Linked DNA regions of Homo sapiens. The protein of the gene in region 3 interacts with the protein of the main gene of each other region in a biochemical or structural test. Each region holds a gene or a part of one and is shown on either strand. Other genes may lie near its edges. The genes, in order: ARHGEF12, RASA1, IGF1R and PTPN11.

Region 1 (7,022 bases), on a different chromosome or scaffold from region 3:
TCTATCATTGTCTGGGTGACCTCATAGCATACACTTGGCCCATTCAAAATTAAATTGGTTCTTATTTTCAGTAAATGTATGTATCTCATAAAATTAGAGGAAATAATATGCATATAGTGTCTGGATCTGGAAAAAGCAGAACTTTTTTTTAGCTTTTTCTGTCTAGCTTAACACAGCCTTTCAACATTCTTAAGAAGTACCTTTAGGGTATTATTCTAGTTATATAGAAGAAAAAATAGAGGCATGATATTGGTTATTGAGGAGTTCTAAATAGTAGTATCTCCCTATTCAGAATGCTTAGATCTTTTCAAGTTTAGTTTAACGTTAAATCTTCTCTAAAAGATGGTGCTTTATTTCATCTTCAAAACAAAATGGAAAATGATTGTATGAAGTAAGATGATTGTATGAAATTAATAATTAACATTTTAATATGTCATTAAAAGATACTTTTTAAAGATAGATCATTGGTAAGTCAGCTAATTTAATTCTTGCAGCCTGAGGTTATAGTTGTGAATATGTTTTTTTTCCCCCTCCTTCCTAAATCGTTTAGTGGGTTTGTTGAAGCAGTTGCTGGTGCAACAGCTAGGTTTGACTGAGAAGAGCGTTCAGGAAGACTGGCAACATTTCCCAAGATACAGAACAGCCTCTCAGGGGCCGCAGACAGACAGTGTCATCCAGAACTCTGAAAATATTAAGGCCTATCATTCTGGTGAAGGACATATGCCCTTTAGAACTGGAACTGGTGACATTGCAACTTGTTACAGTCCACGGACTTCAACTGAATCTTTTGCTCCACGGGATTCAGTGGGACTGGCACCCCAGGATAGCCAGGCAAGTAACATTTTAGTAATGGACCACATGATTATGACCCCAGAGATGCCTACCATGGAGCCAGAAGGGGGTCTTGATGACAGTGGAGAGCACTTTTTTGATGCCCGTGAAGCACATAGTGATGAGAATCCATCAGAAGGTGATGGAGCAGTTAACAAGGAAGAGAAGGATGTTAATTTACGCATCTCAGGCAAGTATCTTTCACACTTAAACTTTGATTTTGATTTTGATCATTGTTAACTGTCCTGTATTTTGAAATGGATGTTGTATTGGTATCCAGGTGTGTGTGTGTGTGTGTGTTCACACATGTGCAATATTTATTCCTTCATTTGATAAATACTGAATCTACTCTGTACCAGACCTCATCATAGGTGCTGGGAGATATAGCAGTGAATAAAACACAGAAAAATCCCATCTTCTCATGAAGCTAGGGGAAAGAAGGATGGTAAATAAGTAAACAAATAAATAGACTTCAGGAAGTATTAGGAAGAAACATAAGTCAGACTGAGGGGACGGAGAGTAATGAAGGCAAACAGGGTGATCAGGGATTAGGACCTCCGATGAGGTAGCATTTGAGCAGAGACCTCAATGAAATGAGGGAATAAAGCCGGGTGGGTACCTGGGAGCTTACTATTCCAGCAGAGAGCAGAGTGGGGCAGAGGCTTTGTGTCAAAGAGCAAGCTTTTTGTGGTGATCGAACACTGGATGAGGGAGACAATGGCAGGAGATGGGGCAAGAGAGGCGTTTGGCAGGGGAAGTGGTAGCAAGATCATTTAGGCACTGTAGTTTCCAGCTTTAAACTTTTGAAATGAAATTTTTTGGAAATTACCATGAAAGTTTGCAGAGTTTAGCTTTCATCTGAAGTGAGGAAATTCTGATGTACCTGAAACTAAACTCAGGAATTAATGGCTTTTCCCTCTCTTAATAACTTTTCAAGTTGAAGTTGTCAGCACACTATGCTATTTCTGTTTTCTAATGGCAGCACTGGTCTTATCAAACTATTCTGTCTCTATCCATAGGAAACTATTTGATCCTTGATGGCTATGACCCAGTGCAGGAGAGTTCCACAGATGAGGAGGTTGCTTCCTCACTTACCCTGCAGCCCATGACAGGCATCCCTGCTGTGGAATCCACCCACCAGCAGCAACATTCTCCTCAGAATACTCACTCCGATGGGGCAATTTCACCATTCACCCCCGAATTTCTGGTCCAGCAGCGCTGGGGAGCTATGGAGTATTCCTGTTTTGAGATCCAGAGTCCCTCCTCTTGTGCAGATTCACAGAGCCAGATCATGGAGTACATTCATAAGATAGAGGCTGACCTTGAACACTTAAAGGTACCTCATACTTCCACATCCATAGGACTTGGTTGTAAGAAACATTTAGCAGAGGGGAAGAATAGGGTGATGAAAATGCTGATGTCAATAAACTTGTTCAGGTTCTAGATTTCTTTGACTATTATCCATGAATAGGCCTGGGTAAAAAGTTGAGATTGGCATTGTTTATCTTTTTCTTTCTTTCTTTTTTTTTTTTTTTTTGAGACGGAGTCTCGCTCTGTCAACCAGGCTAGAGTGCAGTGGCGTGATCTCAGCTCACTGCAAGCTCTGCCTTCCAGGTTCACACCATTCTCCTGCCTCAGCCTCCCAAGCAGCTGGGACTACAGGCACCCGCCCCCACGCCCAGCTAATTTTTTGTATTTTTAATAGAGACGGGGTTTCACCATGTTAGCCAGGATGGTCTCGATCTCCTGACCTCGTGATCCGCCTGCCTCGGCCTCCCAAAGTACTGGGATTACAGGCGTGAGCCACCGCGCCCAGTCGGCATTGTTTATCTTTTGACTATCACAAGAGCAGAAAAAGTTGCAGCTCTGTGAACTGTGTGTTTGTATGGGTGTCTAAGTTTAAGAACCTGAAATGCTTCGGGTAGTTGGCTGGCCTCTGTCAGACATGAACAAGAAGATGAGATAGGTAGGGTTTATGTAGTTATGAATCTAGGCTGAGAAATGCTATGACTTTCTGTAGCCTATTATCTGTGACTCATTAGGTGACATTGGCAGCTTCCCAAATCCTATGACAGATAGAAATTGGCTTCAGTGGCTCCTGTAATCTAAAAACATGGTCATGCATGGGATTTTTGTAGATTGGTAATTGAAGATGTCACTATTGCAAAACTGACTTGTGTGGCAATTTCCAAGAGAAAGACCTATCTTAAAGTTTTCCATCAGAGGCAGGGCACGGTGGCTCACGCCTGTAATTCCAGCACTTTGGGAGGCAAGGCAGGCGGATCACGAGGTCAGGAGATCGAGACCATCCTTGCTAACACGGTGAAACCCCGTCTCTACTAAAAATAAAAAAAATCAGCCAGGTGTGGTGGTGGGCGCCTGTAGTCCCAGCTACTCAGGAGGCTGAGGCAGGAGAATGGCATGAACCTGGGAGGCGGAGCTTGCAGGGAGCTGAGATCACGCCACTGCACTCCAACCTGGGTGACAGAGCGAGACTCTGTCTCAAAAAAAAAAAAAAAAGTTTGCCATCAGAAAACACAGCTTCCAGAGCCCAAACATTTTCCTCATGACATCATTTACACCAGAGACTTGAGGGGTAGATTTAAGTATCCTTAGCCTTTGAGTTAAAGACTGGTCTCCCTTAGTTTCTCTTTTACCTTCATATAATTGATTTTTCCCTCTTCATGTTACTTATTTTATGTAGTATCATTCTGTAGCTGATGAGATATCGACAAGCCCATTGAGGACAGGTCGGTTCTTATATACAGTCATGTGTTGCTTAGCAATGGGGATATATTCTGAGAAATTCATCATTAGGCATTTTTATCTTTGTGTGAACTTCACAGAGTGTACTTACACAAACCTAGATAGAATATATCTTTATTTACATAGATTTTTTCATATGGAAAGCCAAATCTCTCAACACTATTACTGAATATTAGTCATTTCCCCTACCTGATCAGCAATGCCATTATTAAGTGCCACACACCAGGTTTCTACATGTGCTCCATAATAATCTTTTTTTTTTTTTTTTTTTTTTGAGACAGTCTTGCTCTGTCACCCAGGCTGGAGTGCAGTGGCGCTATTTCGGCTCACTGCAACCTCTGCCTCCCAGGTTCAAGCGATTCTCCTGCCTTGGCCTCCCAAGGAGCTGGGACTACAGGCACCACCACCATGCCCAGATAAATTTTTTTTTTTTTTTAAATGGAGTCTCGGTCTGTCACCCAGGCTGGAGTGCAATGGTGCAATCTCGGCTCACCGCAACCTCCGCCTCCCGGGTTCAAGCGATTCTCCTGCCTCAGCTTCCTGAGTAGCTGGGATTACAGGTGCCCGCCACCACACCCAGCTAATTTTTTTCTATCTTTTAATTTATTTATGTATTTATATTTTTTGAGACAGAGTCTTGCTCTGTCGCCCAGGCTGGAGTGCAGTGGCATGATCTCTCCTCACTGCAAGCTCCACCTCCCAGGTTCACGCCATTCTCCTGCCTCAGCCTCCCCAGTAGCTGGGACTACAGGCGCCTGCCACCATGCCCGGCTAATTTTTTTTATTTTTAGTAGAGACGGGGTTTCACCATGTTAGCCTGGATGGTCTCGATCTCCTGACCTCGTGATCCGCCTGCCTCGGCCTCCCAAAGTGTTGGGATTACAGGCGTGAGCCACCGCGCCCAGTCCCAGCTAATTTTTATAATTTTAGTAGAGACAGGATTTCACCATGTTGGCCAGGCTGGTCTGGAACTCCTGACCTCAGGTGATCCACCTGCCTCGGCCTCCCAAAGTGCTGGGATTACAGGCGTGAGCCACCATGCCCCACCCATAATAATCTTAAGGGACCATCATCATGTATGCAGGCCGCCATGTCTTTATGTGCTGCATGACTATAGCTCATGCACATGATGACGGGACCATGTCCAGGGTGACTCCTGGGGGTGGGAGAATTGCATCTATGGTTACCACCTCTACTTTCTTTTTACATGGGAAAATACTAAGTTATTCCTTCAGTGGAGAAATTGGTAAAAGGAATGAAATTTACTTTTTTCTTCCCACTAATGAAATTTTTAATGATGAAGTTAATATTTTTGAAATTTGGGGGCTTGTACCTGTAATGTAAAAAGGGCTTCTTTTCTGTTTTCTGAAGTTTTTGTTTTGTTTTGTTTCATTACGTTTGAATAAAAAACCTATGGGTTTTATTTCACAGAAGGTGGAGGAAAGTTACACCATTCTTTGCCAAAGGCTGGCTGGATCAGCCCTCACAGACAAGCACTCAGGTATGTAAAAGTTATGAGTTCCAGACTCTAGACTAATCATCCTACACTGAATGAAATGACTTATCATACTTTGAAGTGAAAACCTTCTGAGATTCCATTTCTCTTCTGTCTTTAAAGAACTGCCTGTTTCTAAACATCAGATATCAAGCGGAAGCTCATGCCTGCTGACTCTACTCTTCTCTAAGAGGAACTGCAGTTGTCAGTTCCCATACCATCCCCTCTTCTCTCTCTTTTCACCTTTTCAAAGCAGAAGGCAGAGCAGTGGGAAGCCTGGTAAATCACAGATTCGGTGTGAGGCTTACTGGTACTGCTGTGACTCCCTAGTGTGGAGGATTTGGCCTTATTGGATGTTGGTGCACTTGCCTCTGCTGACAGTGTGGCTGGTGTCTCCCCTGACTGCAGATGGATTTGTGTTCCCTGCAGCAGTTTATACTCATCTGCTTACATACTGATTCAGAAACAAAGATTGAACCACGCCCACAGATGTCATGGGTATTCTTTGCAATGTTAGTATATTCTTTTTCTTAATATCATTTCCATGTATCTTTATTCTTCTCAGATAAAAGTTAGAGCCGCATGTCCTGGAGGTGACTGCAGGTTGTTGGATTTGGAGTATCGGCCGTGTCTCACCACATCCTGGCTCCAGTGTGGATGCAGAGAGAGTGTGACAGAGGATCTGCCTGTGAACCACCTGGGATTAGTCAAGTCCCAAGGTGCCCAGAGTGGGACTAGTTCTTCACAGTGTGGCAGCTGCACTAATCTGTTTGTGAGGGAATATCCATTCCCTCACTCTACTCTCCTCACTATCGGAAATTCATTTTGATTCAGAATAAAAACCAAATGTATAGAGCTTTGGGTGTAGGATATGAAATTGTACTTAGATTTAAGAAAAAGAGAAAATCAGATGTATTTATTTGACTTCATTCCGTATTTGAAAGCACATTTTAATTTTTATTTGCCTTGTTTTGTTTTAATTGAGTAGTGAGAGTTTTAGACCTTTGTCTTTAGTACACCCAAGGATCAACTGCTCCTGAAGCAAAGAGGTCAGGATGGAGTATGCAGAAGTTGGGTAGAGAGGTTAAGAAGAGGAGGAAGTGAGACGGGGAAGGGAGGAGCACCTTGCTTCACTATACAGTATTCCAAGCTCTCTGCTGTCCAGTAGGCTGCTTCTCTGAGGGTCACCTCAAAGGTATGCTATGCCGTGTGGCTCTTATGTGCCCAGGTGGTGTGGTCAGAGAGTGGATGGGCTTCCTCCCGCCCTGAGGCAAGCACCTCTTCTCTGTAGCTGGGATCAACCACAATTAATAGGAATCCTCAACATACTAAATAGCAGGCACTTGAAAATGGGTGTGTTTTCTTCCATTGTCGTCTTTTCTATTGAGGGTTGGGATTTGGGTGGGAGAGGAAAGCAAATTTTATTTTCTTGACTATAAATTTGTTATTCTTGGTATCATTTCATTTTTATAATTATACATTAGACATTGGCACTTGTGTAAAACTGTCCCTGCAGATTGAGCAGGAAGTAAAAACAAATGGAAATGCTTCGGATAGTGGCAGGGGTGGGGGTTGCTAAGGAAAGGGTGGGATGGGAGTGGGTAAAGAGTTTGGGAAGGTTATCTAACTGAATCACTACTGAGTTGAATCATGGCTATCATTAGCCACAGGTACTGCTGATTATAAGGCCAGTAAAATTTTAGTACCTGGAGGTTTGACTCTAATTTTTGCACTGATGGTGCCAAAGGGCCCTGAGTCAAAAGGATAGCCAAGGGTGGAGTGGAAAAAGATATGGTGAAGGCAGAACTGCTCACACCAGCTCCAGAAGCACGTCCTCTGACTTCACTGCCGCAGCTCTTTCCACACGGGGCCGTGATTGACCCTAAAAATTGCAGACCAGCACATACACTGGACACTGCAGGCAAGGTGT
Region 2 (7,936 bases), on a different chromosome or scaffold from region 3:
AACCAAACTCTGACGAAAGACTTGAATCCTTTATTGAGGAATATAAAAAGTGGAATACTACATCCCGTTGGCTGGCATAAATATGACTAACTTTACTTTTCCCCTTTAAGTATCAAAAGATGTAGCCTTAAGTCAAAAATGGATTAGGGTAACAGAATCTTTTCCTAATTAGTTTCAGAACTTTCTAAATGCTCCAAAGAAGCTTATCCAAAAAAAAAAAAAAAAAAAAAAAAAAAAAAAAAAAAAGGCCGGGCACCGTGGCTTACGGCTGTAATCCCACCACTTTGGGAGGCTGAGGCCGGCGGATCACCTGAGGTCAGGAGTTCGACATCAGTTTGGCCATATGGCGAAATTTCGTCTCTATTAAAAATACAAAAATTAGCCAGACATGGTGGCATGCGCCTGTAATCCCAGCTACTAGAGAGGCTGAAGCAGGAGAATCTCTTGAACCCGGGAGGCGGAGGTTGCAGTGAGCCGAGATCACGCCACTGCACTCCAGCCTGGGCAACAAGGCGAGACTCCATCTCTGGGGTGGGGGGAAGGAAAAAAAAAAAAACCTCTGAATTGTCCAGAGTGACTGTCAACATATGAACCAAATCTTTTTTTCTTGATATTCAACAAAGTTGTCAAAATTCTTTTTTTTTTTTTTTTGAGACAGAGTCTCGCTCTGTCACCCAGGCTGGAGTGCAGCGGCACGATCTCGGCTCACTGCAACCTCCGCCTCCTGGGTTCAAGCGATTCTTCTGCCTCAGCCTCCCAAGTAGCTAGGATTATAGGCGCGTGCCACCGCGTCCGGCTTATTTTTGTATTTTTAGTAGAGACAGGGTTTCACCAGGTTGGCCAGGTTGGTCTCGAACTCCTGACCTCAGGTGATCCGCCCACCTCAGCCTCTCAAAGTGCTGGGATTACAGGTGTGAGCCACTGCGCCCGGCCGGTTGTTAAAATTCTAAGGGTCAATTAAGGGTTATATGAGAAATCTATAACAAGTTTTGCCTAATAACACTTCCCATCTCAACATTTTCATCAAGGTCCACCTTTAAGAATAAACACCTAAGTTCAATTAAGACAAGTGAGGAGGAGGTATTAACTTACATTTTAAAAAAGTCATTGTCCTGTATATTTTACAGACTGTAAAACTTAATTTTTAAATAGAATACTATACTGGCCACCAACAAAAAATGTTTAAGGGAAGCTCTATTGATTTTGTTTTGCCTCACTGTTGTACTTCCAAAGTCTCCACTATAAAAGCAGTGCGTTAATATTAAGTGGCAAGCCTATGGAAGAAGATACATTGTTGGAATATAGGCTCTTAATCACACCTATAATACACAGGATTCCTTTCCTTTCTCTCTGACCCAAGTTCTCATTAAGTGACCCAAAGACTCTTCTGCATCACTATGCTTTCTCTAATCAGAAGCTGGGCTGTGCACTGAAATAAAAACATTCTAACCAATACATTTTTCAAATTATTACTATAGTACTCGTTTAAACACCTGTATTCAAAGCTTCTCACTAATCATCTAGCTTTATCAAGTAACACACACAAGTTAATATACACTATGACTGCCTTGGTAGCCGCAGTTTGACTAAATTCTGGGACACCACCTCAACTTGGAAGGGACAGAACTATATCCGGTTCTCATTAGATACACATTTTCTCATGCTTTCCATCTTAAAGACTTTACACTTTCCCAGAGGAGCAATAAATGTAGGAAGACGCCAGGTAGTATGCCTGTAAGGAAGATAAGTGATCAGATTAAATTCCTACCCAAGAAACCTGAAACTTCAAAAACTTTTCCTAACAAACCACAGATGAAAAGGACAAAGTATGATTTACCCCTTCATTTCCACTTCTTTTCTGGAGCCAGCTTCCCAAATTCCTGAACAGCAGTCTTAACTTACTGGTTAGTTGGAGGAGCGGTCAACGGTATGGCCACCTCTTCCTCCTCGTATTCTGGTCCATCCAGAGAGTCACCTTCGTCCACTGTCCCGAGGCCCGCCCCCAAAGGGGGCAGGTAAGGGGGAGGGGGCAGAGGGGGAAAACCGCCGCCTGGCCCGAGAGTCTCAGCAAGCAACGAAGTGGGCAGTTTGGTGAGAGCCATGTCTCCACTAGGTCCAGCAACAGCAGCACCGGCCACGCCAGCAGCAGCACCAGCTACGCCAGCAGCAGTACCTCCCCCTGTCAGTCCAGCTCCCCCCAGTGCCCCTGCCACAGACCCGGCTCCTAGGAACTCTGACCCCAAAGCGGCTCCGCCACCCAGAGTTCCAGCCACTCCGGTCTCCACCAGCCCAGGATAGGGGGCGGCTGCCACAGGCAGGGCCGCGGGTATCTTCACCCGACACACTGCGGGATAGGCACTGGAGCCCGCTGCCGCGCCGCCTCCTCCAGCTCCGGCTGTTACCGGGCCGCCCTCCTCACTGCCGGCCTCGGCCGCCATCATGTTGAAGCCCGCTCTACTCTGCCCTACCCTGCCCGCCCGGGAGCCCCAGGGGCCACCAGGCCCGGGCTCCGAGCAGCCCCACCCAGACGCGTCTCCCCTTCAGCTCCCCAGGCTGAGGAAACAACAACAAAAGGAGAGAGCCCGCCGCCGCGCCCCCTCCTAGGGCCACAGCCCAGGCTCCCCAGCTGCCTGGGTTACGGGAAGCCAAGTGGGCAAAAAACCCAACGCCTGCACAAACGCCACCCAAACCTCACCGCACACACCCACACTCACGCACACAAACACATGTACAGAAGCGAAAACTTCCTCGCTGCACTAAAGAGGAAAGGAAGCACAGGGAAAGAGGCTGAGGCTGCTACCGCTCCTTCAGCCGCCACCACCGCTTCTTCACCACCCCAGTTCCGGCCACCCACACCGCAGCCACCGCCGGTGCCGCTGCTGAGGCTGGGGCCACTGCAGCCGCTTCATCCTCCACCAGGCAGATGAGAGGGGTGGGGGGGCAAGAGAAAGGGGGGCGGGGTAACGAGGAAATCGACTGAACTGCTCACTACCTGGAGCTCTCAGTGAGTGAAACGGGAGAGAGAGAAAGGAAGGCGGGGCAGGGGAGGAGGGACGGAGGGAAGGAAGGGCGGAGAAGGGAGAGGGCAGCTTGTGCGCAGGCGCGTTCCCGGAGCGGGGGCGGGGGGCCGGGCCGGGAGGAAAAGGAAGAGTCCAGAGGGAAGGAAGCGGCGGGGACGCGCGGTGCGTGGTCGCGCTTGCTGTCCTCCTCCGGTTCCAAGCGTGTGGCGGCGCGGCCGCATCTCCTGTTGGCGTGGCCGGCGGCGCGCGCCTGTCTCCCGGGGCTTTGTTTGATGGGCGGGAGAAGAGGGAAGGGTACCTGAGCACGCGGGTGCTTGGCGCTGTTAAAGCCGGAGAGACCAGAGGGGGACCAGGAGGCGGTGGAGAGGAAGGAGGGGGAAAGGGAAAGGAAAATGCCCAGAAACTAGTTCCGTACTTCCTGACCAGTGGAAAAAACAGCCTTAACCAGCAGCGCAGAAACCGGGCAGGGGTCAGGTAGCTTTGAAGATCGGGGCAGTACTATTAATGTTTTCTTTTTCGTTGCATGCTATAAATCACTATGACTATCTCACACACACACAGTTAAAATAGATTCTGAAACTCCAAAACGAAATAAAGGGCACCATATGAGAAGGGTGAAGAATTTGAGTAGAAATAGTGGTTATGAAGTAAGATTTCTACCAGTATTTGCATACGTTTTTCTTTATCAACTGTCTCATATACTTACCTATGCCATTATAAGTCTGTTGGATACTGATGAAGAGGAGGAGGTGCCACAGAAAACACTAATCAATGCACTTTTGTCCTGGTTTGTGTGCAAAAGACTGCAGGACGTGATCCACAATGCAAGCACCTTCAACAAGTCAAATGTCAAGAATGTCCCAGAATGCTAGTTATAATTATATATCGTTTCAAAAGTAGCAATAAACTGAAAACTCATTTTTAATACAATTAAGGAGAAGGGTGTTATTTTGTCTTTTACACTAAAATGTATACAAACTATGCATTCATGTAGAGGGAGCTTCCCATGGTTTGAAATTAACAATATTGTTAAATTCTCCCAGGAGTGATCCCACATTAAATACCATTGGATATTGATCTTTGAGATCAATATTTTCTGTGCTAAGGATGATCAAACTAACACTCAGGATGGCAAGTGGCTGTGATAGAAACCCAGGAAAAAGAGAAAAGACCACTAAAAGACGTGACAAGATACAGGCAATGCATTGCCTTTGTAAGTTTGCACAGGCCTATTTACCTAGTCAATGACAACAATCCAACTTGATTAGGAGTAGTCCTGGGGCCTCCATTACGCATATCTCTTAGCAGTGTGCTACCTGGGAGAAGGAAGATGGACCAGTCACAGGAGCTAGAGTTCTCAAAGTGAATTCAGGCCGCAACATCCTAGGAATTCAGAAATGCCACCTCAGACCTTCTGAATCAGAAAATATGCAGCGATCCATTTTAACAAACCCTCCAAGTGATTGTTTGCACACTTAAGTTTGAGAACCACTATATTAATGTATAGTATACTAATCAAGAAGGAGGTATGCAATACCTAAAAACGGTTCTGAAAGAAATAATAAATGTCATTCATTAGGTGGGTAGGTAAAATAGGCGGGTTTTGAGTTGCCAAGCTCTGTGCTGTTCTAGAAATGAGAATGAAGTAGTTCCATAATACTTAATAATGAAGTACTACTTATGGTGGCCTCCCTGAGAACAGTTTTCTTTTAAACTTAGACCCTCAGTTAGACAAGACTATCAAAATACCTACTCTACTTACTGTCTGCTGTGTGAACACCAAGTGCAACAATCCCAACAAATCTTAATATAGCCTGTGCTTGAAAACCTCCAGTGTGTTAGCATCCCAATCCTCCAACATTCCTGTCCCAGTCACCACTGTCAGCCCTTGAATGCAGGACATTGAACTGGCAGGTTATCACCGGCTCTTGGTTATCACTGATTTCTAAATGTTCACACACCCTCTGTATGTTGCCTGGGAGTCCAGGTGAGGCTCACTACTCTTACTGCAGAATTACCTCCTCCTTTTTGACAATTCTTTAGCACTTGTAAAGGTCAATATTTAATGCAGTCTAACACCTATCAAATGCTCAATTAAATGTTTTCTAGACTTTTAGGTGTATGTACCTACAAAACTGTACTGCAAATACAACCTGTGGTCTATTCTACTGCCTAGCCCAGTCCTAGGCAACCTCAGTATGCTACTTTGAACAGATCTTCATCCTTTTAACAAATACCAAATTTGATCAGCTCCCATCTTTGGAAATCAATTTCTTAACCAGTAGGAAATAACTACTATGTCTATTTGTAAATCAGCCTTATACCAATATCTTACCTAGTTTTTGTTTAGCCTTAGAGTTAGCCCTGTTCTTTTCCTCCAAAGAAATTGCCACATATTTTTATGAGGTATTTTCAGATATTTAATATATTCCTATTATTGGATAGATCTAGGCTCTAATCTTTACTATTGCTTGTGTACTTTCTGAATCTCAAATACGTTGTCTATCTTTATTTTCATTTTTTCCAAAAGGATTTAATGTTTCTACTTAATTTTTGTCCATTGCCTTTCTTTTCTACCCACCTTAACTTTCTGCCCAGTTAACAAAGGGAAGTAAACTATCTTAATTAAATTCACAGATATTAAACAGGGAGGTATTGAAAAACAGAATAGTACACAAAAGAAAGAAAATTCAAAATATATTTTACCTTTAGTAAAATAAGCTATTATATCTGTGATTTTAGAAAAGTTACTCTGGATCTTGAAACATAGTATTTAATGAAGACTAAATAATAAAAAGTGCTGGACAAAAACTTGTGTATGAAAAGAAACTGAAAATTTAAGAAATGAAGTTGGCTCATTCTGGTTTCATTGGCAACTGAAATATGAATGTGGCCGGGTGCGGTGGCTCACGCCTGTAATCCTAGCACTTTGGAAGGCCGAGGCGGGCAGATCACAAGGTCAGGAGATCGAGACAATCCTGGCTAACACTCCAGCCTGGGTGACAGAGCAAGACTCTGTCTCAAAAAAAAAAAAAAGAAAAAGAAATATGAATGTACTACGTTCCAAAATATTTTATAGTTTTGATATCTTGAGTATGTGGAAAGGTAATTCTAACTCAGTAACATAACTGTAATTTTAGAGGACCTTAGAGCATAGGTAAGAATAGTTTCTGATGGGAGGACTAACCAAGAAGTAATAAAGAGCTTACTGCTGTGTTTGAAGAATGCCAAATTGTGTTCCATGCCCTAGTACATATTGAGTTACACAAATAGCCTTCCAAATTTACCTAAATAGTATCAAAAGGTTTCATTGACCCAATAATTTTGAAAGAAAGCCTTTACTTCTAACCCTAATGTCCCCACTGCATTTATTGACTTTATCTTAAAACCCTCCAGAGCACAAATTTTTTTATTACAAAGATCTTATGAGAAAATAACATCGAGGAGATACAGGTTAAAGGAAATACTTTGATGAAAAGGCAAATAACTCTGCAGAGATTACAATATGTGGTATAATAACTAAGATTTATGAAAATTATAAATACCATAGAGAAATTGAAGAACTGTGTGATGATCTCTGAGGCTGTAAAATAAATTACAAGGTAAATTATCCAGAGCTCTCTCAAAACATTCAAACCAATATATGAGTAAAGAAGATTAGAACAGTTAGATCTAAATATCTCTTAAAATATAAAATAATAGAAAAATATATTTTTTTTTTTTACTTTATTCCTATTTTGTCTTTATATTGCAGATACTTCATTATTTTTTGTCAGAACCTTTCCTCCTTCATGATTTCTAGTCTCTTTTTCTTTACCTATTATTTTACTCTGACCAGGCACATTTATGTATTTTCCTTTCTTTGCCTGGCTCCTATATATGATAGTACCTCATGGTAGAAGTAAAGGAGAAAAGGGAACGGAATGGTTTCAAGGCAAAGAATGTGGGAGAGTCGGGTGGGTAGGACTTTGCCATATTTCCCTCATTATTACACTCCCATTTTTCACAGATAATATTTTTTGAATATGCCAGCAACAATTTAAATAGCACCTGAAGCACAGTCATGAAATCCAACTAAGCTTTGGTCTTTTCACCTCAAGAATCCTGCAGTCTCTAATTCAAGTTACATTCTTTGGTCTACCTGAGAGTCTTCCAGGAATGCTTTCACTTGCAAATTCAGTTAGTATGGCAATACACACCGCTCTTTAAAGTAACTATACAATGAAAGGGCTAAGTGGAGCCTTGAGTCAGATAATTATCATAAATAAGGTGAGAGCTTTAACTACTGCAAATGCACTGTAAGTAGTGTAACTTTACTCAACTAAAAACAGCTTTCTATTTCTAACTATAATTATTTCTCAATCCGCGTGCTCTTTTGAAGACTTTTCAACTTCACTTGTTATCTTACTAGAACTCTTATTTTTCAACTTCCTATTCACTGTTTATCGAATAGTTTTTAAAAAGCAATGAAATATGACATGTAAATATAATGGTATGTATCAGTGATGTTCAGACTTCTGGGTTTCATAGACTACTAAAGTTTCCACAAAAATTGAGAGACTACAGAATTGCCAATTATGAGTTTGCCAATGTTGTGAAGAGAGAAGTATTTTGTTATTACAACAAAACTGCCATTTCCTGCTGCTTTATTTCATAAAAGGAAAGGACATTTCAAAGCAGGGAGAAAGAGGGAAGGAGGAAAGAGAAAGGATGGAAATAATTTTAGAAAAAAAAGGAAAAGTCCTTAGAATTACATAAATTTAGCTTCATGAAATATTCATCATATATTATGTTCTTATTTTATCTTTTTCCATGGATGCATTAAAAATTGGCATTGAAGGCCAGGCATGGTGGCTCAAGACTATAATCCCAGTACTTTGGGAGGCCAAGGCAGGAGGATCACTTGAGCCCTGGAG
Region 3 (7,022 bases):
AGGGCGAAAGGACAATTCGTCAGAGAGCTCTGGGTCTCCATGAGGGTGGGCAGTCATCAGTCTTTCCCTGGTCCTTATCGTAGTTTGAATTTGGTCCAAGGAATAAGAGAGACACTTGGCACAGCTTCCCTGCCATACCCGCCAGCCAGGCTACTTCCCATAGAGCACGTTAGGCTTGGCCAAGTGAGATCTTCTTGTCAGTGCTTAATCCAGCCTCCCGTTGTTTGTCAGCCCTAGCTGGAGGCCTCACAGGAGTTCCTGTGTCCTTCCAGTTTGATACCAAGTTTAGACCAAGAAAAGTTCCTTTCTGTGGCACACCTGTAGTCTCTTACCTGTCTTTGGTGGTTGTACACGAACAGGCAGATATCCACAACTGCAGAACAAGTGTCATCGTCTCTCTTAAGAAGTTTCAGGGCAGCCTAAAGGCTCACCTTCACCCTACCAGGCCCCCTTTCATAGCCAGGATCTTAGGGATGGAGAAGAAAGATAAGTTCACCTCGTTCACTGAAGTCGCCCCTTGTTTTCAGGTTAGGAAACCCAGGTTCATGTCCAAGTCCCTGGGCAAGTAGCCAGCGTAACTGATTGACCTAAAACAAAGGATGGAGCCCTTGGAGCTCTGCATAGTGAAATGTATGATTTCTTAGTGGAAAACGAGAAAGCCACTGAGGAAGCCCAGAAGGGAACTTAGCATATACAGCCAGCTTTGGGGAAGGGGGAAGCAGTGCCAAGCAAGACAGGTGCTTTTCAGAGACACATGAATCTCTGTCACTCACGGATGTACTCTTTGCCCCAGGTGAAAGTGACGTCCTGCATTTCACCTCCACCACCACGTCGAAGAATCGCATCATCATAACCTGGCACCGGTACCGGCCCCCTGACTACAGGGATCTCATCAGCTTCACCGTTTACTACAAGGAAGCGTGAGTTTCTGCTTTGGGTGATGCCATTCTGTTGACAGGGCTACGAATGGGAGAGGCCAGTCTTTCGATCCTTGAATGGGCTGGCTGAATACAGGGGGTCAGCAGAGTCCCCAGGGAGAGCCACGCCAAACATCCCTACTTCATCCTCATGCACCCTCTCGGGCTGTCCCTGTGATGTCAGTCACAGCCAGTGACAGCCATGATTGGGAAAGTGTTAGCTCGAGGCCTGTCATTCTTTAGTGAGTGATTAGAGGTGTTTGAATAAAATAAACCCAAAATGGGGAAAGCTTGCTTTTTCCAGAATTAGGTCAGTCCAGACTCATGAACGATGATGGGGGACTTCACTGAAATATCGTTTCAGCCTCCTTACCTACTAGGCCTACTCCAGGAACACCCTGCAGGCACGTGGCTCTTTTGTATCATCTTATTCCTGTCTCTCTCTCTGTGTGCCTCTCCCAAGCTGTGGCCCTCTGCTCTAGGTCATGAGCCTTCCAAACAAGCGAAGAAAAGTGGAGAGAGAACAACCTTCATGTCTTGAGCCTTTTGTGACTTCTCCTAGACTCTGTTGGGAGCTTTTCCTGTGTGATCACATGACATTCCCCCATCTAAGCAGCCGAGGCTTATTCCTCCCGACTGCAGCCCTCTTTGATCTCCCTCTTCCTTCCTTTGCCTTCTATATCCAGGTGGCTACCCCGGTCTACTTAGCCATCCCCCTTACCCAGGTCCCATGTTAATCCCATAGTTCTCTCTCCCAGATGTGTGGCTTCCAAAGAGCAGCAACCAGAGGCACCTTATGACAGCATCTTGTACTCTTTCCTCCTGCCAGAGCTGGGGTCCTATGAATGAGAAATTGGGTACTTAGGATTACTAGGCTTTCAGAGTTTGTACACAGGGGAGCCCCTCATGATCTCCCATCCCATGACAGCAGACGGTGTTTTGTTCATGTTTGTTTCAGAAGCCAGCGGCCAGCAGCTGTCCAGCCCTTTTAGCTGATAAATATAAAATACCTACCCAACCATGCATCTGTGCGAAGTACTATATTCTCTGATAGTCACACCAGTGCTTTGGCAATGTCAGCTGGTAATTTCACTGAGGACTTGATGCTGGTTTCTAAGGCAATCTGGAAACTAAATATTTGAATATTATAAGATGCTTAAGCATCAGAATTGTTTATGAGCAATCTGAATTTTAGAAGCTACTTCTGTTTGTCTGTAGGAAAGTCATTTTTCTCCAACAGTTACCTTCTTTCAATATCTGATATTTGCATTAACTGACTATGCTTGTTTTTTTCTTGATGAAAAAATGCTGCAATCAGAAGAGAGAAAAATAGTTTTTGCATATGTTCTTAAGGAATAGTAACTATTGAATCCCAGTAACTGTTGAAGTGGCTCTTCCTGAGGCAGACCATTCAATTCTGTAATGCCCGACTGGGGAAGCCCAGAGTCCAGTCACTTCATTTCTTCTTCTATAAAAGTCTAATTGATTATTTGTTTATTTAGACCTCCCATTATAGAAAGTGTGACATGCTGGGCCTCTGGGGAAGATTTTTGAGGGTTTTGATGTCAGAGCCCCGAACTTTCTCTGAACTTAATTGTCTTTCAGACCCTTTAAGAATGTCACAGAGTATGATGGGCAGGATGCCTGCGGCTCCAACAGCTGGAACATGGTGGACGTGGACCTCCCGCCCAACAAGGACGTGGAGCCCGGCATCTTACTACATGGGCTGAAGCCCTGGACTCAGTACGCCGTTTACGTCAAGGCTGTGACCCTCACCATGGTGGAGAACGACCATATCCGTGGGGCCAAGAGTGAGATCTTGTACATTCGCACCAATGCTTCAGGTATCCATGCCTAGACAAGCCCCCAGCATCCACACTTCTTCGCAAGCTCACTGGCCTTGCTTGTACCAGGTGTCATTGTAGGGTTAGCAGTGAGCTATGCCTGTTGTCTTTCTTGTCAATAGGTAATACTGTGTCATATTCATTTCCCCACTGCTAACACATTAGGCTCTTCTGTGCCATTTTCTGGCCTCGGTACTATCTTCCATCATCTCCTGCTTTGTGCCTGTGAGCCCAGGTCCTCCAGGGTGCTGGGCTGGTTTCATTGGAAGGCCCAGCCTGGAAACAGCCGTCTTCAGCTGCCCTTGTTTCTTGTTTGTTTTGATGTTCAATCCTCCAGGAACTGAAACCATGCTGATCTGTGTTCCACTTAATTCATGTAGCTCACTGGTTTTCCATCTTCATTCTGGAGCTTATAGAGTTCCAAAGAGGTCAACAAAAGTTGAAAGCCTGCAGATGTAGTATGTTGTGGATATTCAGAGTATTCACTGATGATGAGGTTCCTCCTTCCTTTATCTTTAGGTTCTAAACCATCTCATTTCTCAACTCCAGATCTGGAAACAGTAAAAGCAAACGTTAATAGTTTCCAGTATATAAAAACTAGTTTAGAAGTAGGAAAATCCACTTCAGTTTTAAAGACACTGATTGTTTTAGTGTATTGGAGCTTCTATCACAAAAAAACAGTGTAGCCTGGGTGGCTTATAAGCAATAGAAATGTATTTCTCACAGTTCCAGAAGCCACAAAGTGCAAGATCAAGGCGCTGGCAGATTTGGTGTCTGGTGAGGGCCCACTCCCTGGCTCATAGATGGCTGTCTTTTCATTGTGTCCTTGCATGGTGGCAGGGATGCGGGAGCACTCTCCGGGGCCTCTCATAGAAGGGCCTGGATTCCATTCATGAGGGCTTCACTCCCATGACCCAATCACCTCCCAAAGGCCATGCCTCCTAATTCCATCCCCTTAGGGGTTAGGATTTTGACATGTGAGTTTTGGTAGGGGACACAGGCATTCACTCTATAGCACTGATAAACATTCTTTGATAATAGCCATTATTTTAGTGGGTAAGGTGTTTTTAAATACCCATAAGCGAGCACAAAATCAGTTTAAATGGCAGAGAGGAGGGTGAGAAGAAAATGCTGGTGGGGAAAACCTTTTGCTGTGCACGCCTGCTCCTTCCTCCACTCCTACCCCATCTCCATGACCCTGTAAGTGGCCACAGTCATGTCACTGGGTAAAGTGCTTATTGAAACAAAATTGGCACAGGCTTCTGATCCTGCGTGTGGGTTGGTGTAGCAGAGGTTCAGTGCAACAGAAGAAGTTTTTCATCTTAAAATTTGGAAGTAACCCCTGGCCAGCAATTCACTGTAGTGTTTGGGAAACATAGGAATATCTGCTTATTGTGACAGATTCTCAAGAAACCTGTTTCCTTTCCACAAAGATGGAAACCAGGCACTGTACCAATGAGTCAGTTCACTACGTTTTGTCCTCTGTCCTTACACGCAGCGGAGACAGACGAGAACTTGGTCCTCTGCCTCTGCTGTTTGGTGACACCTATCGTAAGAATGTATCTAGGAATGAGCTGTTTGTTTTTGAAGTACTTATTTTTGGAAACCCTAAAGTGGCTGAGCATCAAGTGGTTGTGTTTTCTCTGAAAACGCCAGTATTAGTCATAACCTTTTTCCAAAGTATCATCCCTTAAAGATGTTCAGAACCTTGTGTGTATCGTATAACCTGGAGCACCCTCAAGCTGTCCGCCCTTTTCAAGTTTTAAAAATGGCTTAGGCAAACATATTGCTTAAGTGATATCCAGTGAAGGTGTCTCCTGTGCTTTGAAAAACCATCAACATTGATGCTTTTTTGTGACCCAATAAGGACAAGATTTCAGTGGTTCTGGGATGCATTTGATCTTTATGCACACTTCAGCTCTGGGTTTCAGTTCAGGGGTCAGCATAAGTAAAGCTTGATCAGATAACTATGCTTTGCCTATAATCGGCATTCATTCTGCTGGTGACAGAGTCCTTTGCTCAAAATGAGGCTTCCATGCGTTTGCAGTTCTAAACTGCTTTTCAGAGTCATGCCTCAGTCATTGTACTGAAGGATGCCTGTGGAAATGGTGGACTTCCGTGTTCTTTGCATTGCCTCTCCCCCATCCCTCTTACACACAGCTGTGACATGGGCATGCACACTCCTTCACACACACAGACTCTCCAGGCCCCTTTCCACTTCCTCTTTCCATTTGGCTTCATGACATTTTTATCAGAGATTCAAAATCTCAGATGAAATCCAAGTCAGCCTGTTTTACCAGTTGTCGAAATTGCCGGAGTGCAGCACTGTGGAGAATGGCAGTTGTAATAAATGAGAAATACCAGGTGTTTGAATTAGCTGTAGATTTTCACATTGTCTCTTCTAACCCTGCTTGTGCCCCCGCAGCCTTTTTCCATTTACAACTCAGTAATGTTTGTTTTCACAGAGATTACCGGAGGAAATAGATTATAAAGGGAAATGTTGGCATTTATAGTAGTACTATTTCAAAATAAGGTTCACTTTTCACTTTGTATTTCATTGTTCATTGTTATTTTCTTATCCAGGTCAAACTGGCAGTTTCCTGTTGGCTTGCCAGAGTATCTGATAGCCTGACTCTTAAGTTCATTTCATTTTCTAGAATGTTCTTTGTTCCCCTCTCCAGTTCCTTCCATTCCCTTGGACGTTCTTTCAGCATCGAACTCCTCTTCTCAGTTAATCGTGAAGTGGAACCCTCCCTCTCTGCCCAACGGCAACCTGAGTTACTACATTGTGCGCTGGCAGCGGCAGCCTCAGGACGGCTACCTTTACCGGCACAATTACTGCTCCAAAGGTAAGGGTGCAGCAGCGGCCTGGACGGAGGGTGTGACCGTTCATTCCTGTGGTTGTAATGTGCCTGAGCCCTAATATTACACGTATCAGACAACAGTGTAGTTCTCCATTGGAAACCAGCTATCTTCTGGTTTTTTTTTTTTTTTTTTGAGACAGAGTCTCACTCTGTTGCCCAGGCTGGAGTGCAGTGGCACGATCATGGCTCACTGCAATTTCTGCCTCCCAGGTTCAAGCATTTCTCATTCCCCAGCATTCCGAGTAGCTGGGATTACAGGCATGCACCACCATGCCCAGCTAATTTTTGTATTTTTAGTAGAGACGGGGTTTCACCATGTTGCCCAGGCTGGTCTGAAACTCCTAACCTCAGGTGATTTGCCCGCCTCGGCCTCCCAAAGTGCTGGGATTATAGCCTTGAGCCACCACATCTGGCCGAGACCAGCTATCTTCTTGATTAAAGGTACTGAGAGCTATTATTTTTCCTTACAAGCATGTATAACGGCTTTCATTCCCACTCTTGTTTTGGCTTTTCTTTTCCGAGAAGACAAAATCCCCATCAGGAAGTATGCCGACGGCACCATCGACATTGAGGAGGTCACAGAGAACCCCAAGACTGAGGTGTGTGGTGGGGAGAAAGGGCCTTGCTGCGCCTGCCCCAAAACTGAAGCCGAGAAGCAGGCCGAGAAGGAGGAGGCTGAATACCGCAAAGTCTTTGAGAATTTCCTGCACAACTCCATCTTCGTGCCCAGGTACCCAGCTCATGTGAAATTTCAGTTGGCAAAACCCACTGCTCAGGCCGGTTCTGTTGCCTTTCTCCCCACCAGGTAGTGTGTAAGTCAGCAGCTGGGGGGTACAATACAGTAGCCACTGAGACGGAGCCGAAAAAGATGACAGGTTCGGTGAAGTGAGTCCCTGCGGAAGCCAGTCAGCCCTGAAGGGAACAGGGACCAGGGCTTGGGTTGCTGGGGCCACCGGTGTGACAGGTACTGCTGTCTCAGCCACAACCCCCCACAGAGAGCAGGTGGGCACCCTGTGGTAGAGGCAGGGAGGGGAAACTCAAAGAGTATTGACAGCTGCTGCCTGGTGAGAGGAAAGGCCAGGATTTGGGTCCATCTCTGCCCTTCCTAATTATCTTTACTGCCTCTCTCAGCCTCACAGAGGAGGAGTGAAGCAAGAGGGAAAAAAGTCAGAGTCTGTGCTGGAAAGGGCCTGACTTCAAAACATAGCCAGGTGCCACAGGCATCCTGTACAAGTAAGTTTGGGAAGCAGTGTAGGGCGACAGCCTGCATTGGCTGTTTATTCCGTGGTTACTCTGTCTTTCAAAGCAACACAGCCCCTGCCCCAGGGACTCTGCTCCTCTGCTGTGGTCTTGGTTTCTGGGGAGTGGGGACAAAAGCAGAGGAAAGTAAACGTTCA
Region 4 (7,022 bases), on a different chromosome or scaffold from region 3:
TGTCCTTTTACATCCCTTTTAAAAATGTCACTTAAGGCTGGGCAAAGTGGCTCATGCCTGTAATCCCTGCACTTTGGGAGGCTGAAGTGGGTGGATTACTTGAGGTCAGGAGTACAAGACCAGCCTGGCCAACATGGCGAAACTCCTTCTCTACTAAAATTAGCTGGATGTGGTACATGCCTGTAGTCCCAGCTACTCGGGAGTCGAGTCTGAGGCCCAAGAATTGCTTGAATCGGGGAGGCGTAGGTTGCAGTGAGCTGTGATCAGGTCACTGTGCACCAGCCTGGATGACAGAGTGAGACTCTGTCTCAAAAAAAAAAGTCACTTAGCTTAGATTGTCTCTACATATATAGGAAGAAGATGTAGGAATGAATGGTGCTGCTACAATTACGTCATCTGGATAGACCCAGAAACATGATACTTTTTGGTTTTCTGTAGCCTTGGTGCCATTGTTGATCTTTATTAATTATCATTATCCTCAAAATAGCCATAATGTGCTGAGTCTCTTCCTATTTGCTGGGCAGAGGCTGAGTATTTCAGCGAGCTCACTGAGTCCTTAAAATTGCATTATGATAGAGAGAAAGAGATTATTATTTGCATTTTGCAAAATGAAGAAATTGAGGTTTAGAGATACCCAAGGGCCACGTGAGTGTGAGTGCCTGGAATTGGAGCCTAAATCTAGTCATCTGATAGCAAAGCCTGTTTTCTTATCTGCTTTGCATTAAATATAAGTTTAAAATAGAACAATACTGGCCAGGCTGGGTGGCTCACGCCTGTAATCCCAGCACTTTGGGAGGTCGAGGCAGGCAGATCACCTGAGGTCAGGAGTTTGCAACCAGCCTGGCCAATATGGCGAAAGAAACCCCATCGCTACTAAAAATACAAAAATTAGCCAGGCATGGTGATGTGTGCCTGTAATCCCAGCTACTTGGGAGGCTGAGGCAGGAGAATGGCTTGAACCCGGGAGGCAGAGGTTGCAGTGAGCCAAGATCACGCCACTGCACTCCAGCCTGGGCAACAGAGTAAGACTCTGTCTTGGAAAAAAAAAAAAAAAAGAATGATACTATAGTCTGTGTTTATATGGTGGGGAAGGTTGAGTATCAAAAAAATAACAAAGAGGAATGAATGTCTTAAGTGAATGCCTGTTTCCCCATCTGCTTCCTCTTCTGCTGGGAGGAGAGACCTGGATCCCTAGAGGTTTCAGTTGCCTCCAGAGCTGAGTGCCACAGGGATGCAGGGGAATAGGGATGTTACCTGTCGCTGGTAATTCAGAGAGATGATTCAGGGTATAGTTACCTGAAAGAACAAATTGCCATGCCAGACGTCTTGGTTCTTATGACAGAGGCAAAGAGTTGCCTCCAGGATTGCCCAAAAGGAGACGAGTTCTGGGAACCTCACGAAGAGGACCTTTCAGTGGAACCTGGGGAGATTCTCTTCCTCTCCATTGGATTTAGGAAAGCTTAGAACCGGGTGATTCCTCAACCTCTTGATTTATTTAATTCTTTTCTGGTTTTTCTTGGCTCTACTCCAGGGGAATACGGAGAGAACGGTCTGGCAATACCACTTTCGGACCTGGCCGGACCACGGCGTGCCCAGCGACCCTGGGGGCGTGCTGGACTTCCTGGAGGAGGTGCACCATAAGCAGGAGAGCATCATGGATGCAGGGCCGGTCGTGGTGCACTGCAGGTGACAGCTCCTGCTGCCCCTCTAGGCCACAGCCTGTCCCTGTCTCCTAGCGCCCAGGGCTTGCTTTTACCTACCCACTCCTAGCTCTTTAACTGTAGGAAGAATTTAATATCTGTTTGAGGCATAGAGCAACTGCATTGAGGGACATTTTGATCCCAAGGCATATTTCTCCTAGACCCTACAGCACTGCCATTGGCCATGGCCATGGCAACATGCTCAGTTAAAACAGCAAAGACTAAGTCAGCATTATCTCTGAGTCCACCAGAAGTTGTGCATTAAACAACTTCATCCTGGCTCTGCAGTTTCTCCTTATTCTTCATGATGTTTGCTTTGTAGCTGTTGACTGCTTTGTAGGTATTGAGGTGGTGGGGGTGTGGTGGAAATAGGCCTGACTCTTGAGGATCCCTTAAGTCATTTTTGCTTGGTTCTCTTTTTCCTTCTTTTCTTCTACTCTTCTATGATTCATCTCTTTGATTGTGATTCTGTTCTCTCTCTCTCTCTCTCTTTTTTTTTTTTCGTTTTTGAGACAGAGTCTTGTTTTGTTGCCCAGGCTAGAGTGCAGTGGTGCCATCTTGGCTCACTGCAACCTCCGCCTCCCGGGTTCAGGCCATTCTCCTGCCTCAGCCTCCCAAGTAGCTGGGATTACAGGCATCTGACACTACGCCCGGCTAATTTTTGTATTTTAATAGAGACAAGGTTTTGTCATGTTGGCCAGGCTGGTCTCGAACCCTTGACCTCAGGTGATCCACCTGCCTTGTCCTTCCAAAGTGCTGGGATTACAGGTATGAGCTACCATGCCCGGCCCATTCTGTTCTCTTCTACCATAAATATATTTCTCCCCTAACACTATATTTGTTTGCTTCACAAGATTCCAGCTGCTTTTCCACCAAGGCCTTTGATGGAAGCTGTGCTGTGACCTCTGTAATGAGTCTGTGGGCTGCTGATTCTCCAGTTTGGGCTTCATGATTATACTGGGGAATATTGGGTTTCCTAAATCTCATTCATTTCTTGGGCAAGTAGATATATGTGAAAGTGTTTATTTGTCCAGTTGTTAAAGAAGCTACCATTTATTGAGCCAGCCTCTGAGCACAATGTTTTTTGTTTTGTTTTGTTTTTAATTTTTAAAATTATTTACTTCTTCTATTTCAATAACTTTATTATTATTATTTTTTGAGACAGAGTCTCACTCTGTCACCCAGGCTAGAGTGCAATTGAGCGATCTTAGCTCACTGCAACCTCTGCTTTCTGGGTTCAAGCAATTCTCATGTCTCAGCCTCCCGAGTAGCTGGGATTACTGGTACGTGACAACATGCCTGGCTAATTTTTGTGTTTTTAGTAGAGACGAGGTTTTGCTATGTTGGCCAGGCTGGTCTGGAACTCCTGGCCCCAAGTGATCCTCCTGCCTCGGCCTCCCAAAGTGCTGGTATTATAGGTGAGAGCCACTGCGCCCGGCCCTCTTTCAGTAATTTTGATGTATTTTTTTGTATATGATTCCTGTTTCATTCTGTCCAACCAGCACTCTGTATGGTATGTGCTGTTGTCCCCATTTCACAGATGCAGAAATTAAGGGTCAGAGAGGTTAAGGGACTTACCTCAGGCACGTTGTACTGGAGAAGCTGAACTCCAAGAGCAGGTTTGGGCTGACTCCAAAGCCCTATGCTTTTTGCCAACATATTTTCAAACATAAATAGACAATTTTATAAATAGCTCCAAAGAGTAGACATTGTTTCTGTTGATATTAATGGCTTGGTTTTGAGTCTGAAACCCCCATGAATGATTCTGTTGTCCCTGCTTTTTGTCCTTCTGCCCGCAGTGCTGGAATTGGCCGGACAGGGACGTTCATTGTGATTGATATTCTTATTGACATCATCAGAGAGAAAGGTGGGTCATCTGGTGGGCAAGAAGCGACAGTTTCTGTTTTTAGTTTATGGAAGGAAAGTGCTCACGAAAACAGTCTGGGGAAGAGAGGTTGAATGGGAAAATTCTTTCACAAAAATCTGGGCTGAAGACTTCAGTGTGTCTGCCTGAGAACAGAAGTGACACTATTTGAGCTTTTGGCATAAAATGAAGTCTAGGAGCTGCAGAACCCACTGCCATGGCCTTTTGTTGCATACACAGTGGTGGTCTCTATCCAGCCACCTGACCTTGTTTACAGTATGGGGTGATTTGTTGGCAAGTGAGGGAATCCTGACTTCTGCCACTTCGTTATTTATGTAGTCTTCTGGGATCATTGGTATTGGTCAGAAGTTCAACACTGTAGCCATTGCAACATGCTCAGTTAAAACAGCAAAGACTAAATTAGCATTGTCTCTGAGTCCACTAAAAGTTGTGCATTAAACAACTTCATCCTGGCTCTGCAGTTTCTCTTTATTCTTCATGATGTTTCCTTCGTAGGTGTTGACTGCGATATTGACGTTCCCAAAACCATCCAGATGGTGCGGTCTCAGAGGTCAGGGATGGTCCAGACAGAAGCACAGTACCGATTTATCTATATGGCGGTCCAGCATTATATTGAAACACTACAGCGCAGGATTGAAGAAGAGCAGGTACCAGCCTGAGGGCTGGCATGCGGATTCTCATTCTCTTGCTAGGCCTCTTGGATACGCTCTCCTTTTGAGCAGGAGGACAGGCTCTGATAGACAACTGTTTGATTTCGGAATGGGAAACAAACTCCCAACTAAAAGGGCCTCTGGAAACTGTCAATTATTCTCCACTTCTCAGCTCTGATTTTTCACTGCAGAGGAGCTTAGGGAAGGGCACCATCCTATCAGCCTGGCCTGCCAGATTGAAGAACTGCCATGCAGAAAGGTTCTGATGTTCTCAGGCTCATGTGGCAAGCGTAAAACTCAAAGCCTTGAAGTTTCTAGCCTGTTCCAGCCTTGATCCAGGCCATGTTTATCCTGATTCCATCCTTTAAAACGAATGCCTCACTCTTAATAGCGCACGGCAGTTTGAACCACTAATTTGGTCGAGTTGGAAACAGTGAAATTTCAATTTTAATAAGCTGTGCATAATGAAGAGGAATGTGGAATTGGAGCCTTTCCATCTGAAGCTATTCATAACAGGCACAAAGCTGAGTTAATTAGGAATATGCTGAGATGAAGGAAATGAGGAGAGCTGCTCTTTTGGGGGCTGTGCTTCTCTCCCCAACCCCTCAACCCCATTGCCATGCTGCAGATGGGGTGGTGTCTAAACATCAGTGGCGAGTGCCTGCATTACTCTGCTCGTTGCCTTCCAGAGAACTCAGCTTCTCCAAATGCTGAGCTCTTTTCAGAATGGGACCTGCCACCAGTATTTGAAAGATTTCTAGCCTAGCAGAACAGCAGCCACGTTATCAAAGTTTGGTTGGCCAAAGGAAGGTACTTGCTAATTAGTTTAGTAGGTTTTCAGTCCGCACAGACATACGGGATTGTTTTATTGTACATAGACATCTTCAGAAACAGTGTATGTATAGAAATGTAAGGTCAAAATTTGAACCTCAGTGCTTTAAATCTGAATTTGTATTAACTGATATGAAATATTTAGACGGTTACTTTATTTTATATCTGTCTTCCATTATACTTAATTTGGCTCAAGAATAGTTAGGCAAAAAGTTGCCCAAAGAGAAGGATCTCCTAGTAAATACAAAGAGAATGTAACATAGTTGCTACAAGTTGGAGCATGTTCAGGGATGTCTTTTTTTTTTTTTTTTTTTGAGAGAGAGGTCTCTCTCTGTTGCCCAGGCTGGAGTGCAGTGGTGTAATCATGGCTCACTGCAGCCTCAATCTCCCAGGCTTAAGCGATCCTCCCACCTCAGCCTCCCAAGTAGCTGGGACTATAGGCATGCGCCACCACACCTAGCTAATTTTCGCATTTTTTGTAGTGTCACAGTTTCGCCATGTTGCCCAGGCTAGTCTCGAATTCCTAGGCTCAAGCAGTGCTTCTGCCTCAGCCTCTCTGAGTAGTTAGGACTACAAATTTGTGGCTCCATGCCCGGCTAATTTTTTTATCTTTATTTTGTAGAGACAAGGTCTCACTGTGTTGCCCAGGCTAGTCTTGAACTCCTGGGCTCAAACAACCCTCCCACTTTGGGTTTCCAAAGTGCTGGGATTACAAGTGTGAGCCACTGAGCCCAGTGACCTCTGGGTTTTAAAAATGTGTAGGCTTCAATTATTTATTTTAAAAAATGAAATCCTGCAATATATAGTTTTCTGCGTTGTGTGGTTTGAATCAATCTGGGAACTGGCTTGCTGGCTGATTGTGGTAAAGTAAGAAGTACTTAATTTAGTAGAAAGTTTAAATGGCAGACATAACATTAAACCCAGCTGATTTATAAATGAAGCAAAAGAACAAAACTCATTCAGGATAATTGGTTATTCTAAAATACAGTCATTTCTAAAATTATGAAGTGTTCAGGACCTTTGGGAGTGAAAGAATTTGCTAAAGAAGGATCAGTGAAAAAAAGGAATGATGGGTGAAGAGCTGTGGAGAAGGAAGAGAAGAAACAGCACAAGGAAGGAAGAATATAAAATCAGATGTGGGAATCCAGGGGAAAGTGCAAACGAAGCAAGATTGAGAAAATTCTCAAGTTTTTATAAACAGTTCTCACACTCTGCCAGTTCCTTGGAGGTAGACTTTTTTGTTAACTTCCAACTACAGTAGTGAAAAAAAAAAAAAAACCCTCAAATTTGCAAAAGCAGTCTGTGGAATTTTCTTTACCCAGCTTTCCTGACTGTTAACTTTTTAGCACACTTAACTTTATCATTCGTTTATTCTCTCTGTTTAAAATTAAAAATGTAAATTTTAAAAAGTAAAATGTTTGTTGGTTACAAACATTTATACCCCTTTGTCTCTAAATATCATTTCATTTTAAAAAATGAATAATCTAAGCCTACACATTCTAAAATGTGTATATTTTCTAAAAATAAGGGCATTCTCTTACATAACCAATGTCACAATTATTTGATACAGTGATCAAAATCAGGAAACTAACATTGATATAACACTATTATCTAACCTACAGACCATCTTCAAATTTTGTCCTGCTAGTATCTTTTATGGGTCCAGGGTCACACAGTGCATTTGGCTATAATGTATCTTTTTTCTCTTTTTTTGAGACAGGGTCTCACTTTGTTGCCCAGGTTGGAGTGCAGTGGTGCAATTATGGCTCACGGCAGCCTTGACCTCCTTGGGCTCAGGTGATCCTCCCACCTCAGCCTCTCGAGTAGCTGGAGACCACAGGTGTGCACCACCATGCCTGGCTAAGTTTTGTATTTTTTGTAGAGATGGAGCTTCGCCGTGTTGCCCCGGCTGGCCTTGAACTCCTGGGCTCAAGTGACCCTCCCGCCTTGGCCTCC

The links.
Region 1: the proteins of IGF1R (region 3) and ARHGEF12 form a complex in vitro, tested with the Homo sapiens proteins (2 studies listed by BioGRID and IntAct, with this or other methods).
Region 2: the proteins of IGF1R (region 3) and RASA1 form a complex in vitro, tested with the Homo sapiens proteins (one study listed by BioGRID).
Region 4: the proteins of IGF1R (region 3) and PTPN11 form a complex in vitro, tested with the Homo sapiens proteins (one study listed by BioGRID).

What each region holds. Positions count from the first base shown.
Region 1 is NC_000011.10:120,479,410-120,486,431, forward strand, and holds part of ARHGEF12 (rho guanine nucleotide exchange factor 12), read left to right. Parts: intron 1-550; coding exon 551-1,021; intron 1,022-1,850; coding exon 1,851-2,167; intron 2,168-5,028; coding exon 5,029-5,098; intron 5,099-5,657; coding exon 5,658-5,668; 3' UTR 5,669-7,022. UniProt on the Homo sapiens protein: May play a role in the regulation of RhoA GTPase by guanine nucleotide-binding alpha-12 (GNA12) and alpha-13 (GNA13). Acts as guanine nucleotide exchange factor (GEF) for RhoA GTPase and may act as GTPase-activating protein (GAP) for GNA12 and GNA13.
Region 2 is NC_000005.10:87,262,957-87,270,892, reverse strand, and holds the start of RASA1 (ras GTPase-activating protein 1), read right to left. Parts: upstream 3,011-7,936; 5' UTR 2,442-3,010; coding exon 1,903-2,441; exon of another isoform or gene 1,846-1,902; coding exon of another isoform or gene 1,838-1,845; intron 1-1,837. UniProt on the Homo sapiens protein: Inhibitory regulator of the Ras-cyclic AMP pathway. Stimulates the GTPase of normal but not oncogenic Ras p21; this stimulation may be further increased in the presence of NCK1.
Region 3 is NC_000015.10:98,910,522-98,917,543, forward strand, and holds part of IGF1R (insulin-like growth factor 1 receptor isoform 1 precursor), read left to right. Parts: intron 1-793; coding exon 794-920; intron 921-2,522; coding exon 2,523-2,761; intron 2,762-5,442; coding exon 5,443-5,610; intron 5,611-6,150; coding exon 6,151-6,355; intron 6,356-7,022. UniProt on the Homo sapiens protein: Receptor tyrosine kinase which mediates actions of insulin-like growth factor 1 (IGF1). Binds IGF1 with high affinity and IGF2 and insulin (INS) with a lower affinity. The activated IGF1R is involved in cell growth and survival control.
Region 4 is NC_000012.12:112,484,944-112,491,965, forward strand, and holds part of PTPN11 (tyrosine-protein phosphatase non-receptor type 11), read left to right. Parts: intron 1-1,519; coding exon of another isoform or gene 1,520-1,531; coding exon 1,532-1,686; coding exon of another isoform or gene 1,687-1,690; exon of another isoform or gene 1,691-1,980; intron 1,981-3,499; coding exon 3,500-3,567; intron 3,568-4,080; coding exon 4,081-4,232; intron 4,233-4,240; exon of another isoform or gene 4,241-5,045; intron 5,046-6,074; exon of another isoform or gene 6,075-6,481; intron 6,482-7,022. UniProt on the Homo sapiens protein: Acts downstream of various receptor and cytoplasmic protein tyrosine kinases to participate in the signal transduction from the cell surface to the nucleus. Positively regulates MAPK signal transduction pathway. Dephosphorylates GAB1, ARHGAP35 and EGFR.